Homo sapiens: one gene and its partners. The protein of the gene in region 1 binds, or shares a complex with, the protein of each later gene. Each region holds a gene or a part of one and is shown in the gene's direction. Other genes may lie near its edges.

Region 1 (3,824 bases):
TTTTTTTTTTTTTGTTACAAAAAAACGTAGTTGGTTTAGTGATGAGAATGTACAACTCTGGGTGTGATAAATAGACCAAAGGATAAAAATAACTGTTTCAAAAGTATCAGCTATGGTGTCAGCCTGCTGTGTTAGATGGAAGGCATTGGAGCTTAGCTTCTCATGTTTTCTTGTACAAATTGGCTTTATTCAGATTTGTAAGAGTGTCAATGTAAAACTCTTTCTTACTGGAATATCCTTTACAGAAGGTTGAGATAGTCATCTGAGCCTTTTTAAAAGAAAAAACTGCAGGTGAAAAAGGAGTTAGTTGATGTGAAAGTTTTAGTGAAATTCTGGGTTGTATAAATAAGTTGCTAGGAATTGGCAAGGTAGTGAAGTGGTGACTCACACAGGTAATGTAATTGTTAGATTTTTTAGCAAATCAGGAATATGTCAATATAAGTACAATGTTGAATTCAAACAATCTGTTGAATTAAATTCTGTTGATTAGAATAACTCTAATTTAAGAAAAATTCCAAACTGTAGATTTATTTTTCTCTGATCAGTAAAAAGAAAATGAGTTCCAGCTTGACTTTAGCTGTTCAAGTGAGAAGTCTGAGGAAGTGCATGTTAATGAGCCAGTGACCCATAGGTAGCTGGGTTAAAGACACTTTGGATTTGGATAATCCGGGAAGCAATTAATCCCTAATTGTTGAACAGGCAGTCCTGGGTAAAGAGGACCTAAAATGCTGCACTATTAACAGCATTAGACGGCCAGGTTTGTACTTCATAGTTTTAGGCTGTCTTCTTCACAAGTTTTAGAAAAAGAATTTAGGAGCTAGAGCCCTGGTGCAGGATCAACAGCAGCTCATACTCCTATTTTAAAATAATTTGGTCGTGGCCTCCCTTCAGTTTTAATGTGGCACTGGTAAATCTACCTGGTTCTGGCATGCTTCACTTTGATTTCCTGCTATCCTCTACTGCTTGCCTCTAAATCAAGGTAAAGAGCAGAGCAGGTATGTATTAATGTCACATTGTCTTGATTATTTTAAATACTTAAAATATACATGTTAAACCTTGGTATTAGTTTCACAGGCAGTTTACTTTTCAGTACATAATTTAACAGGAGTGACTTGGTGGGAGTGGGGCTTTAAACTGAAAATTGGAACAACAGCATGATGTGGAGAAAAGTTGTGCAGCATTAAGAAGTACATGCAAAAATTAAGTAACCAAGTTTTGTCTACATAGCAGATATGTTTACATTGGATGTCAAAAGTAACACAGTATTTGATATAATTACAGATAATTGTGATCTACATTTTAAAATATCAAGAGATCGTCTCAGTGCTTCTTCCCTTACAATGGAGAGTTTTGCTTTTCTTTGGGCTGGAGGAAGAGCATCCTATGGTGTGTCAAAAGGCAAAGTGTGTTTTGAGATGAAGGTAAATGCAATTTTATGATTTGTTTGTTTGTTTGTGGAGACAGTCTCACTCTGTTCCCTAGGCTGGATTGCCGTGGTGCGACCTAGGCTCACTGCAACCTCCGCGTCCTGGGTTCAAGCGATTCTCCTTGCTTCAGTCTCTCAAGTAGCTCGGACTAGAGGCACACACTACCACACCTGGCTAATTTTTGTATTTTTAATAGAGATGGGGTTTCACCACGTAGGCCAGGCTGGTCGCCAACTCTTGACCTCAGGTGATCCACTGTCTCGGCGTCCCAAAGTGCTGGGATTACAGGCATGAGCCACTGTGCCCAGCCTTTTTTTTTCCTTTTTAAAATAGTGACAAGGTCTCACCATGTTGCCCAGGCTGGTCTTGAACTCCTAAGCTCAAGTGATCTGCCCGCCTGAGCCTCTCAGAATGCTGGAATTACAGGTGCTTCATACTGCTAAGTTATCAAAGGTACTTATTTTTGAAGCTTCCTGTAAATTAAAAGAGGAGCTTGGAACCTTCATTTTGTTGTGACAGTTAATCACGGTTGTTATGTTAGAACTTGCCATGCAGAGCTAGGCGATTTTTTATTTAGGGTACTTCATTTTTATCAAGCATTTGAAAGGGCCACCAAAGAGTTAAAAATAAAATTTGGTTACATTACTGCTTTTGTTGGTGAGAAAAACATTAATTGTATCCTTTAATTGGCTTTAAGTTAAAGACTGACAACATGAACTTTAAAAATATTAAGTATTCTTTTAAATATGGGTCAAATAAGTATTTAACTCTTTAAATTTCAAGTTATAAGCACATCAGTTTAAAGTTCTTACAAATATTGGGGGTGGGCTAGAGTGTGCCTTCTTTGTATTTATAGCTAGAGGAAGATTAGCCCGTGGCGCAATGAAATATGCGAGAGTTAAGGGGTTACCTCCTTGGTGTATTATTTTAATTATTTAATGATTTGACTTTCAGGTTACAGAGAAGATCCCAGTAAGGCATTTATATACAAAAGATATTGACATACATGAAGTTCGTATTGGCTGGTCACTAACTACAAGTGGAATGTTACTTGGTAAAGCTTCTTTTTGACTGATGTGGGCTCATGAATGTTCAGGAGGGTCTGATTTCAGTGTTTTTTAACTAGAGGGCATTCTAAGCCTTTTGTCTGTTTTTATCTATTCTGTTAATACTTCAGACAGGTAATATTAGCACATAGTAGGCACAGGCTACATTTTAGTTTTTGTTCCTTTATTAGAAGTTTATGACCAATGGTTGAAATAAAATCTTACCCGTGATATGCAAATCGTCAACTAATTTGGTCTCTGCGTATATATCCCTCCTAACTTCCATCAATTCTGGTACAGAGATAGAAAAGTAATAGTGTCAGTGACAGGTGATTAGGTTATATGCTTATTTCTCTTGTAGCCTACATCTTAAGTAGTAAAATAGATGAGTCTTTGGACTATTTTAAACATCTACTTCATGAAGATTAATTATTTTCTTAGGTGAAGAAGAATTTTCTTATGGGTATTCTCTAAAAGGAATAAAAACATGCAACTGTGAGACTGAAGATTATGGAGAAAAGTTTGATGAAAATGATGTGATTACATGTTTTGCTGTAAGTTAAAGCTAACTTTCTATGTATAAATGGCAAAGTTAGTAGCTATATCTAGGAACTTTAAAGAAGCTTTACTGAGGTCAGTTTTCAATATGAGCAACAAAATACACCAGTCCCTGGATTAGTGTAAAGACTTCATTCAGCAGTTGAATTGGGAAAACACAGGACATTTTTGAGGAACTCACTAATTCATTTTGACTGAAAACAGTGAACATGAAATTGACCTAGAAAATTCAGTCTAGCTTCTAGGTCAGTATTGTTTCTGGTTCTGGAGATACGTGCTTCATGGTTTACAACCATCAGATTTCTTAACTGTGTAGCCCTTAAAGGCCACCTAATAGTTCTTTAACCTGTAGCTTCCACAGGATAAGCTTTGCTCCTAATTTTAATTCTTAGTTTTTTAGAAAGTTTAAGGAAGCAGATTTTAACTGTTGAATTTTTTTCTGTGTAACAGAACTTTGAAAGTGATGAAGTAGAACTCTCGTATGCTAAGAATGGACAAGATCTTGGCGTTGCCTTCAAAATCAGTAAGGAAGTTCTTGCTGGACGGCCACTGTTCCCGCATGTTCTCTGCCACAACTGTGCAGTTGAATTTAATTTTGGTCAGAAGGAAAAGCCATATTTTCCAATACCTGAAGAGTATACTTTCATCCAGAACGTCCCCTTAGAGGATCGAGTTAGAGGACCAAAGGGGCCTGAAGAGAAGAAAGATTGTGAAGTAAGGGATTTTTTTTTTTTTAACTGTGGCATTTGAATATTGCTTGCCTGGCACAAAATGACATTTAGAAGAACTAGAT
Region 2 (3,600 bases), on another chromosome or scaffold:
CTGGGTAGTACCCTCTGCTTATCCTTTCCTGAGTCTTAGCAACAGCAGCTTGTGGGGTGCAGGGTGATGGACATGTGCCCTGTGCCGTGTGGCCTTGGAGCTTTAGTTGATGCTTTTGGACTTCGACTATCAGAAATAGTATTTAAATAGTATTTAATTAGCAAGGATTCTTCACCTGGTTCCTAGAGTAGGGGTCCAATCTTGGGCTTTGAGTCCTGTGATTCCAAGTATGTGTACAATTTGTGTTTGTGTGCACTTTATTGAAATGAGGGGGTCCATCGTTTTCATCTGATTTTTATTTTATTTTTTTGAGACAGGGTCTTGGTATGTTGCCCAGGTTGGAGCACAATGGCGCAATCATAGCTTACTGCAGCCTTGACCCCCTGGGCTCAAGGAATACTCCTGCTTCAGCCTCCCAAGTACCTAGGAGACTACAGGTGTACACCACCATGCCCAGCTAATTTTTTAAAATTTTATTTTTTGGAAACAGGGTCTTGCTGTGTCACCCAGGTTGGTCTAGAACTCCTGGGCTCAAGCGATTCTCCTACCTTGGCCTCCCAAAGTACTAGGATTATAAGCATGAGCCACTGCACACAACTCATCTGATTTTTAAAGGAGACTTGGGGTTGGGGTACAGGACCAAAAATGTTTAGAATCAGAGTCCTAGAAGTCCAATGGAGCTCTGTCTCCACGCCTTTTTCTCATATAGGGGGTTATAGTATAGTGTCATGGGTCTATCGTCTGTCTCCAGCAGTCTGAACAGCCAGAGAGGAAGGACTCCTGAGGGTGTACAACTGTTTGGCATTTCTGGTTGCAATTGCTAGCCGTTAGTCCAGTGAGAACATCATATCACTTAAAATTCCACACCCGAAGTGTGTAGGTGAGAGTGTATGAAAAGCACAGAATAGGCTTTTGTGGAAAAGTATGTAATTCATGTTTTTGGCCCACTTGCCTCTGGGGCTACTCGCCTTTTATACAGCGGGGGTCACACACAAGCCCCTGTCAGGGTGTGCTGACTCTTCCTCCTCATCTTTCTTCCCCAGCTGCAGTCTCACCTGATCCCTGGCCTGAACCTGGCTGCTGTAGGTCTTTTCCCAGCTTCATCCAGCGCAGTCCCGCCGCCTCCCAGCAGCGTTACTGGGGCTGCTCCCTATAGCTCCTTTATGGTAGGTGGAAGATCTTATTACACGGGATCCCTGGGCCCATATGTGGCCTCCCTTAAGGGGGACTCAGCATGCTCTGGGAGTTGGATGCTTGGCAAGTTTGCAGGGAGAGGGAAGGAAGGTCTCAGAGGCATCCCTCCTCTCCAGTGCTCCTAGCCACTGGCTCTGAGGCTCCCAAATGTCTGCCTAGAATGCTCCCGGGGCATAGACAGCACTGTTCCCTTACTCTCTCCTGGCCTCTTCCCTTTAGCCCTACTGGGCATAGGAAGAGCTAAAGAGCTCACAGCATCCCTTGGCAGCCCAGGGTGGCGGTTTGGTGCCTGTACTCCTTCCTCCTTGAGGATGCAAGGCAGGGGAGTGGAGGGTTTCTGGGCCATGCTACTTGGGCCCCCTGGTAACAACGCCTCCTATCCTGGCAGCAGGCTCCCGAGCAGGAGATGGTGCAGGTGTTTATCCCCGCCCAGGCAGTGGGCGCCATCATCGGCAAGAAGGGGCAGCACATCAAACAGCTCTCCCGGTTTGCCAGCGCCTCCATCAAGGTGATCTGCTCTGTGGGTCTTCCTGTTTCTGGAAAGGGAGGGGTCTCTGCTTTTATCACTCTGCACTTTCTCCCATATTCCCCCTACTCATTTGAGAATTCTGTGTGTCATATGAGGGACCTTTCCCCCATGGAATCGAAGTCCTCTTTGTTTTTGATCTTGCTTGGTCCCCATGGGATGGCTTCAGTGCTTCTGGGTTTTCAGGCTGGGCAGGGGCAGGGTTATAACATAGAAAGAGAACTTAGGTTCTAACACAAACTGATGGGTTCAAATCCAAGATCCATCTCATCACCCCTTCCCCCAATACACTATATGATCTGAGCCTCACTTTCCTCGTCAGTACAATATTATGAGGCTACGCAGCCAAAGCCCTTCGCTCACATACTAACACCAAGTAAGTGTTAGTTGTCTGTCACCTTCCCTGGCCAAGGTCCAGGGGAGAGAGAAGGGAGAATCTGTCATAGTGAAACAAGGATGCTGTTAGAGTTTCACAAACCTAAATCCGGTTGCTTTAGTTGTCTTAAAAGCTTTGAGCAAAAACCTTGATTGTTCTCCAGTGGAGGTGCAGTCACTGCCCTCTATCCGTTGGTCATTTCATTTGTGTCCTTGCCTGTTGGCAAGACTCCACTGAAACCTCTCTGGGAGATTGGTAGGTGGAGGGGGCAGGAGGCCCTACTTAGAAAGTGTCATTGAAGCCAATCCTTCTAACTGACCACCTCTGCCCTCCTAATAATTCTGGTGTGAAGGCGTAATGATGTGGGCTTCAGGGTCTTTGTTCTTCCTCCCCTAAGTCTTCAGAATGGGTAGTTGGGAGTAAGGGTGGTAGAAGGGGAACTGGATGAAGTGGACATGGTGGGGGTCTTCCCATAGAGGGTCCCTCATTGACTAGCTTTTTGCTTTTTAGATTGCACCACCCGAAACACCTGACTCCAAAGTTCGTATGGTTATCATCACTGGACCGCCAGAGGCCCAATTCAAGGTTTTGGTCTTTATTGTTTTCCAAGCTGAACATGGAGGAATTGAGGTTGGGTATTTCCCCTGAGGTAGGAAAAAGGCTGGGTCAGTTTCCCGTTAGCTGTCAAGTCCTCATCACATCTTTAAGCCTTCCATGCAGGATAAAGGGCTGCAGAGCTATTTTCAAATTGACATCAAACTGGATTTCTGTTGACTTCGTCTTCCCTTTTTAAGGTCCACAGAAGAAGATGGGAAGGAAAGAAGTCTGAGGGCATCTTATTTGCACTCTGCTGTCATTTCTAAGGAAGGCCTTTAATGCCAAATTCTCATCTTTTATGTCCCCACTAAATCCTAAGGTTCTTGAACTTCTGATCAGACAGCCAAAAAATGAACCATCAACTAGCTTAACCTAACATATGTGAGGATAGAGGACTGGGACAGCTCTCTGGGCCACTGGAGAGTCAGACAGGCCTGCCCTCTGTGTGACTTGATTAGTTGCCATTCAGGGCCTTGAAATGCTGGTCAGTGCCACGTCCAGATTCCATAGGTCTGGTTTGTAGCTTGTGAATTAGATTCCTCTGGGAACTATTTTTTCCCTTGGGAAGTGTTTATTCAATTACTCATAACTCATAATCTCCACCCAGGGTCTCCAGTATGATAGCTAAGCAGAAGGAATGCTGACAAGCTGCCCACCTGAGCCTTGCCCTTCACCTGCCTTAGATGGTTAGCCCGCCTAGGATGGGGAGGGCCTGTGGGCCAGAAAATATGGGCTGGAGCTTCCTTTTTCCCACTTTTCTCTTTTGTCACAGATATATGAACCACTGATTAACAATTACCTCCTCTTCTCAGGCTCAGGGAAGAATCTATGGCAAACTCAAGGAGGAGAACTTCTTTGGTCCCAAGGAGGAAGTGAAGCTGGAGACCCACATACGTGTGCCAGCATC
Region 3 (3,824 bases), on another chromosome or scaffold:
AATATTTTTTGAAAAGCTGCAAAGCCAGCTTATTGACAGTTGAAATACTGATGGAGAATGTACATTTGGCAACTGGCTTTTTTTTTTAGGAGTCTCAAACCCCAATGAATTTAGAATGTTAACCCTGCTGCCCTCCACTTCCATCAGTATGGATTATTAGACTATTTCTCAAAGCAGCTTTGACAATAAGATTGTTTAGTGTGGGTATGTAGATGAGAAACTGAGGCTAGGAGGAGGAGGCTTTTTTTTTGGTTTAAAATCATGGTGAATGGCTTCAAATTCAGCTTGGTTTTGATATTTATATTGGTGAGTTTTCTAATTTATAGACAATGTGGTGATTGTATTACTTTTTAACCTGGTGTGCTTTGTAGTGTGCCAGTGCTCTTGAGCCAAGCGTATGGTTTAAGAAAATCAGTTAAGGGTATAGGCCTTGAGCATTGTTGTAGTGGTGTGGAAACAGGGAAAGCCTAGAATATGGAAAAGGTTGGTATATGGAGTTAGCTGTTTAAGACAACCATGAATTGGAGGCTTTCACAGATCTAGCTGTGAGTGAATTGAGTTTGATCTGTAAATCTAGTTTTTCCATAAAAGTGGAGTATAGTTGTCTCCATTGTAATTCAGTTGTAATCAAGTTTGCATTGGTGAGCTAGAACTAAAGTTTTTAAACTTTTAGTTTGTGACTTTTAGCTTTCAGTTTTTTTTGCAAGGGGGTGGCTTAATTTTTTGTTTGTTTGTTTGTTTGTTTTTGGGAGACAGAGTCTTACTCTGTCACCCAGGCTGGAGTGCAGTGGCGTGATCTTGGCTCACTGCAACCTCCACCTCGCGGGTTCGAGCAATTCTCCTGCCTCAGCCTCCCGAGTAGCTGGGACTACCGGTGGGTGCCACCAGGCCCAGCTGATTTTTGTATTTTTAGCAGAGGTGAGGTTTCACCATGTTGACCGGGATGGTCTCAATCTCTTGACCTCGTGACCCACCCACCTTGGCCTCCCAAAGTCCTGAGATTACAGGTGTGAGCCACCATGCCTGGCTGCTTACAGTTTCAATGAGAGCTAAGTTGTGGTAAAAAGGCATAGAGACATTTTTAGAGGAAGTTTGACAGAGGGAATAAGTTTTTCCTTTTTGTTTTTATGGATTGACAAAAAGTGTTATTTGGGTCTTAACTATTAAGGTTAAAAAATCCGTTTATAGCATAGGGATTACATGTGAGAAAATGGAAAGATGAGCTATTACTCATTTAGTTTATGTTATAGATGTGAGCAAGTTTATGAATGTTTTTATTAATTACAGTATTTTTCATAAACAGTTAGTGTCCTTTGAGTAGAAAATGTTAAAAATCTGTCCAGTAATTTTCAGAGACTGAGGTGACCCTAGATTATGCATTTTGATAAATTTTGTCAGATAGCTAGGATTAGTCTGTTTTTATTTCAGAATGTCCTAGCTAATAAAATTGGTTTTGTTTAGAAAACCACTTTTGTGCTTTGTGGTTGAGACAGTGGAGAAGGGGAATAATTCTTGACTTTTTCCTTCAGATAATGGAGGAGTGTACCTTTTTTTTTTTTTTTTTTTTTTTTTTTTTGAGATGGGGTCTTGCTCTGTCATCCAGGCTGGAGTGCAGTGGCGCGATCTCCGCTCACTGCAACCTCCGCCCCTCCAGGTTTAAGCGTTTAAGCAGTTCTCTGCCTCAGCCTCCTGAGTAGCTGGCATTACAGGCGCGTGCCACCACGCCTGGCTAATTTTTTGTATTTTTAGTAGAGACAGGGTTTCACCATCTTGGCCAGGCTGGTCTTGAGCTCCTGATGTCCTGATCCACCCGCCTTGGCCTCCCAAAGTGCTGGGATTACAGGTGTGAGCCACTGCACCCAGCCTATACTTCTTTCTATACTTTGCCTAGAATAAGGAATAAACACCTAATGCTCTGAGTAAATATGAGTTGTGTAAATTTTAACAGTTACTTTTTGGGAGTTAAAATGTAGAGGTTATGTAACGTTGCAGTTTCATAAAGTTTTTAAAAGTCGTTTTGGCTGTTACTTTTTTCTGAAGGACCCATGCTATCCCATGAAATATGGCACGTAAATGTCAAATAATAATAGGAGATTTTTTTTCCCTGTAGCTCCCAAGTTTCTAGACTTGGTATGGGAAGTGTAATTTCTTCTGAGGTTGGCACAATGCCCAGAATGGCAGTATGTACCTAGGAGTGGGGTTTATAGGGAATTTATTGGGTGAGAGATCCAGATTTGAAAGATGCTCAACCAAATTAGGTACAATCATTTTTTAAGATGGTATTAACATAGTAATACATCCTGTCTTGAAAGTTGCTGATGGATTGGTCTTAACTTTTTGTTGTCCATTAAGCACACTATTCAGTAATTAAGTGGAGACTAGAAAGTAATTTGAACAGGACCCTGGACTTCTGATAATAATTTAGGAGTATAACAAGTACACATTTAAGGGGAAATTTTAAAACAGACATCACAAACCTGTTTTTATAAGGGAACATGCCAAGATAATTGGAAAGATTTGAGCAAGATGGATGTTAACTGCTAAATATATGGGTGTGGTCTAGTGAATTAAATGTATTAATGACGTTTGAACTTTTCAAGGCACTCTTGGAAAGAACAGGCTACACACTTGATGTGACCACTGGACAGAGGAAGTATGGAGGACCACCTCCAGATTCCGTTTATTCAGGTCAGCAGCCTTCTGTTGGCACTGAGGTAAAGCAACTAAAAACTTGTACCTTTTGTAGTAAAAGCACAGGTATCTGGTTTCCTAAAGCAATTCTCCATGGTTTTTACTTAATATTTAATTTACAGATATTTGTGGGAAAGATCCCAAGAGATCTATTTGAGGATGAACTTGTTCCATTATTTGAGAAAGCTGGACCTATATGGGATCTTCGTCTAATGATGGATCCACTCACTGGTCTCAATAGAGGTTATGCGTTTGTCACTTTTTGTACAAAAGAAGCAGCTCAGGAGGCTGTTAAACTGGTAAGTTGTCCTTTTTTCCCCTTCAGTTTTCACGTTCACTGTCTTTAATATCAAGTTTTTTTCTTAGTGTGCCTAAGAGTTTACCAAACATTTTTTGAAGTACTGATTTAGGCAGGTTTTTTTTTTCCCACATCACTGTGCAAGCATTGTAGTGTTATTCTTTGCATGTATAGTTGATAGGATTCAGCATCTAAAAGGCGGCATGGTAGAATTCCTAGCAATTGGTTCTTATAAACATCTGGCTTAGTGACGTTTTTGTGTGTTTGTTTAAATTTATAGGAATGTGAAAAGATTAAGAAAAGTAACTGTGGTAAGAGCTCTCATACTTCCTGGCCATACCTGAGCCATCTCTTTTTCTTAAATAATTCACAAAAGACATTGTGATACATTTCTAGTTGATGAAACAAAAGATTTTATGGTGAGTGGCAATGTTTGATTTAAAAATACCAGATGTTAGGTAAGGACCTGGTAATCTTTCCAACTTTTTTAAAAAGGAAATTTTTCTTTTTTCTTTTCTTTTTTTTTTGAGACCAAGTTTCTCTCTCTTGCCCAGGCTGAAGTGGCATGATTTCGGCTCACTGCAACCTCCACCCCTCAGGTTCAAGTGATTCTCCTGCCTCAGCCTCCCGAGTAGCTAGGATTATAGGCGCCTGCCACCACGCTCAGGCTAATTTTTATATTTTTAGTAGAGATGGGGTTTCGCCATGTTGGCCAGGCTGGTCTCGAACTCCTGACCTCCGGTGATCCACTCGCTTCGGCCTCCCAAAGTCCTGGGATTTTAGACGTGAGCCACCACGCCTGGCTAGAAAGAAATTTTAATATTTTAAATTATAG

The links.
Region 2: HNRNPU (region 1) and IGF2BP1 share a complex: the UniProt entries of both Homo sapiens proteins name them as parts of the coding region determinant (CRD)-mediated complex.
Region 3: HNRNPU (region 1) and SYNCRIP share a complex: the UniProt entries of both Homo sapiens proteins name them as parts of the coding region determinant (CRD)-mediated complex.

The regions. Positions count from the first base shown.
Region 1 is NC_000001.11:244,857,932-244,861,755, reverse strand, and holds part of HNRNPU (heterogeneous nuclear ribonucleoprotein U), read left to right. Parts: intron 1-1,281; coding exon 1,282-1,421; intron 1,422-2,381; coding exon 2,382-2,481; intron 2,482-2,914; coding exon 2,915-3,027; intron 3,028-3,481; coding exon 3,482-3,745; intron 3,746-3,824. UniProt on the Homo sapiens protein: DNA- and RNA-binding protein involved in several cellular processes such as nuclear chromatin organization, telomere-length regulation, transcription, mRNA alternative splicing and stability, Xist-mediated transcriptional silencing and mitotic cell progression.
Region 2 is NC_000017.11:49,042,385-49,045,984, forward strand, and holds part of IGF2BP1 (insulin-like growth factor 2 mRNA-binding protein 1), read left to right. Parts: intron 1-1,043; coding exon 1,044-1,166; intron 1,167-1,582; coding exon 1,583-1,702; intron 1,703-2,606; coding exon 2,607-2,681; intron 2,682-3,505; coding exon 3,506-3,600. UniProt on the Homo sapiens protein: RNA-binding factor that recruits target transcripts to cytoplasmic protein-RNA complexes (mRNPs). This transcript 'caging' into mRNPs allows mRNA transport and transient storage.
Region 3 is NC_000006.12:85,636,133-85,639,956, reverse strand, and holds part of SYNCRIP (heterogeneous nuclear ribonucleoprotein Q), read left to right. Parts: intron 1-2,600; coding exon 2,601-2,714; intron 2,715-2,813; coding exon 2,814-2,990; intron 2,991-3,824. UniProt on the Homo sapiens protein: Heterogenous nuclear ribonucleoprotein (hnRNP) implicated in mRNA processing mechanisms. Component of the CRD-mediated complex that promotes MYC mRNA stability.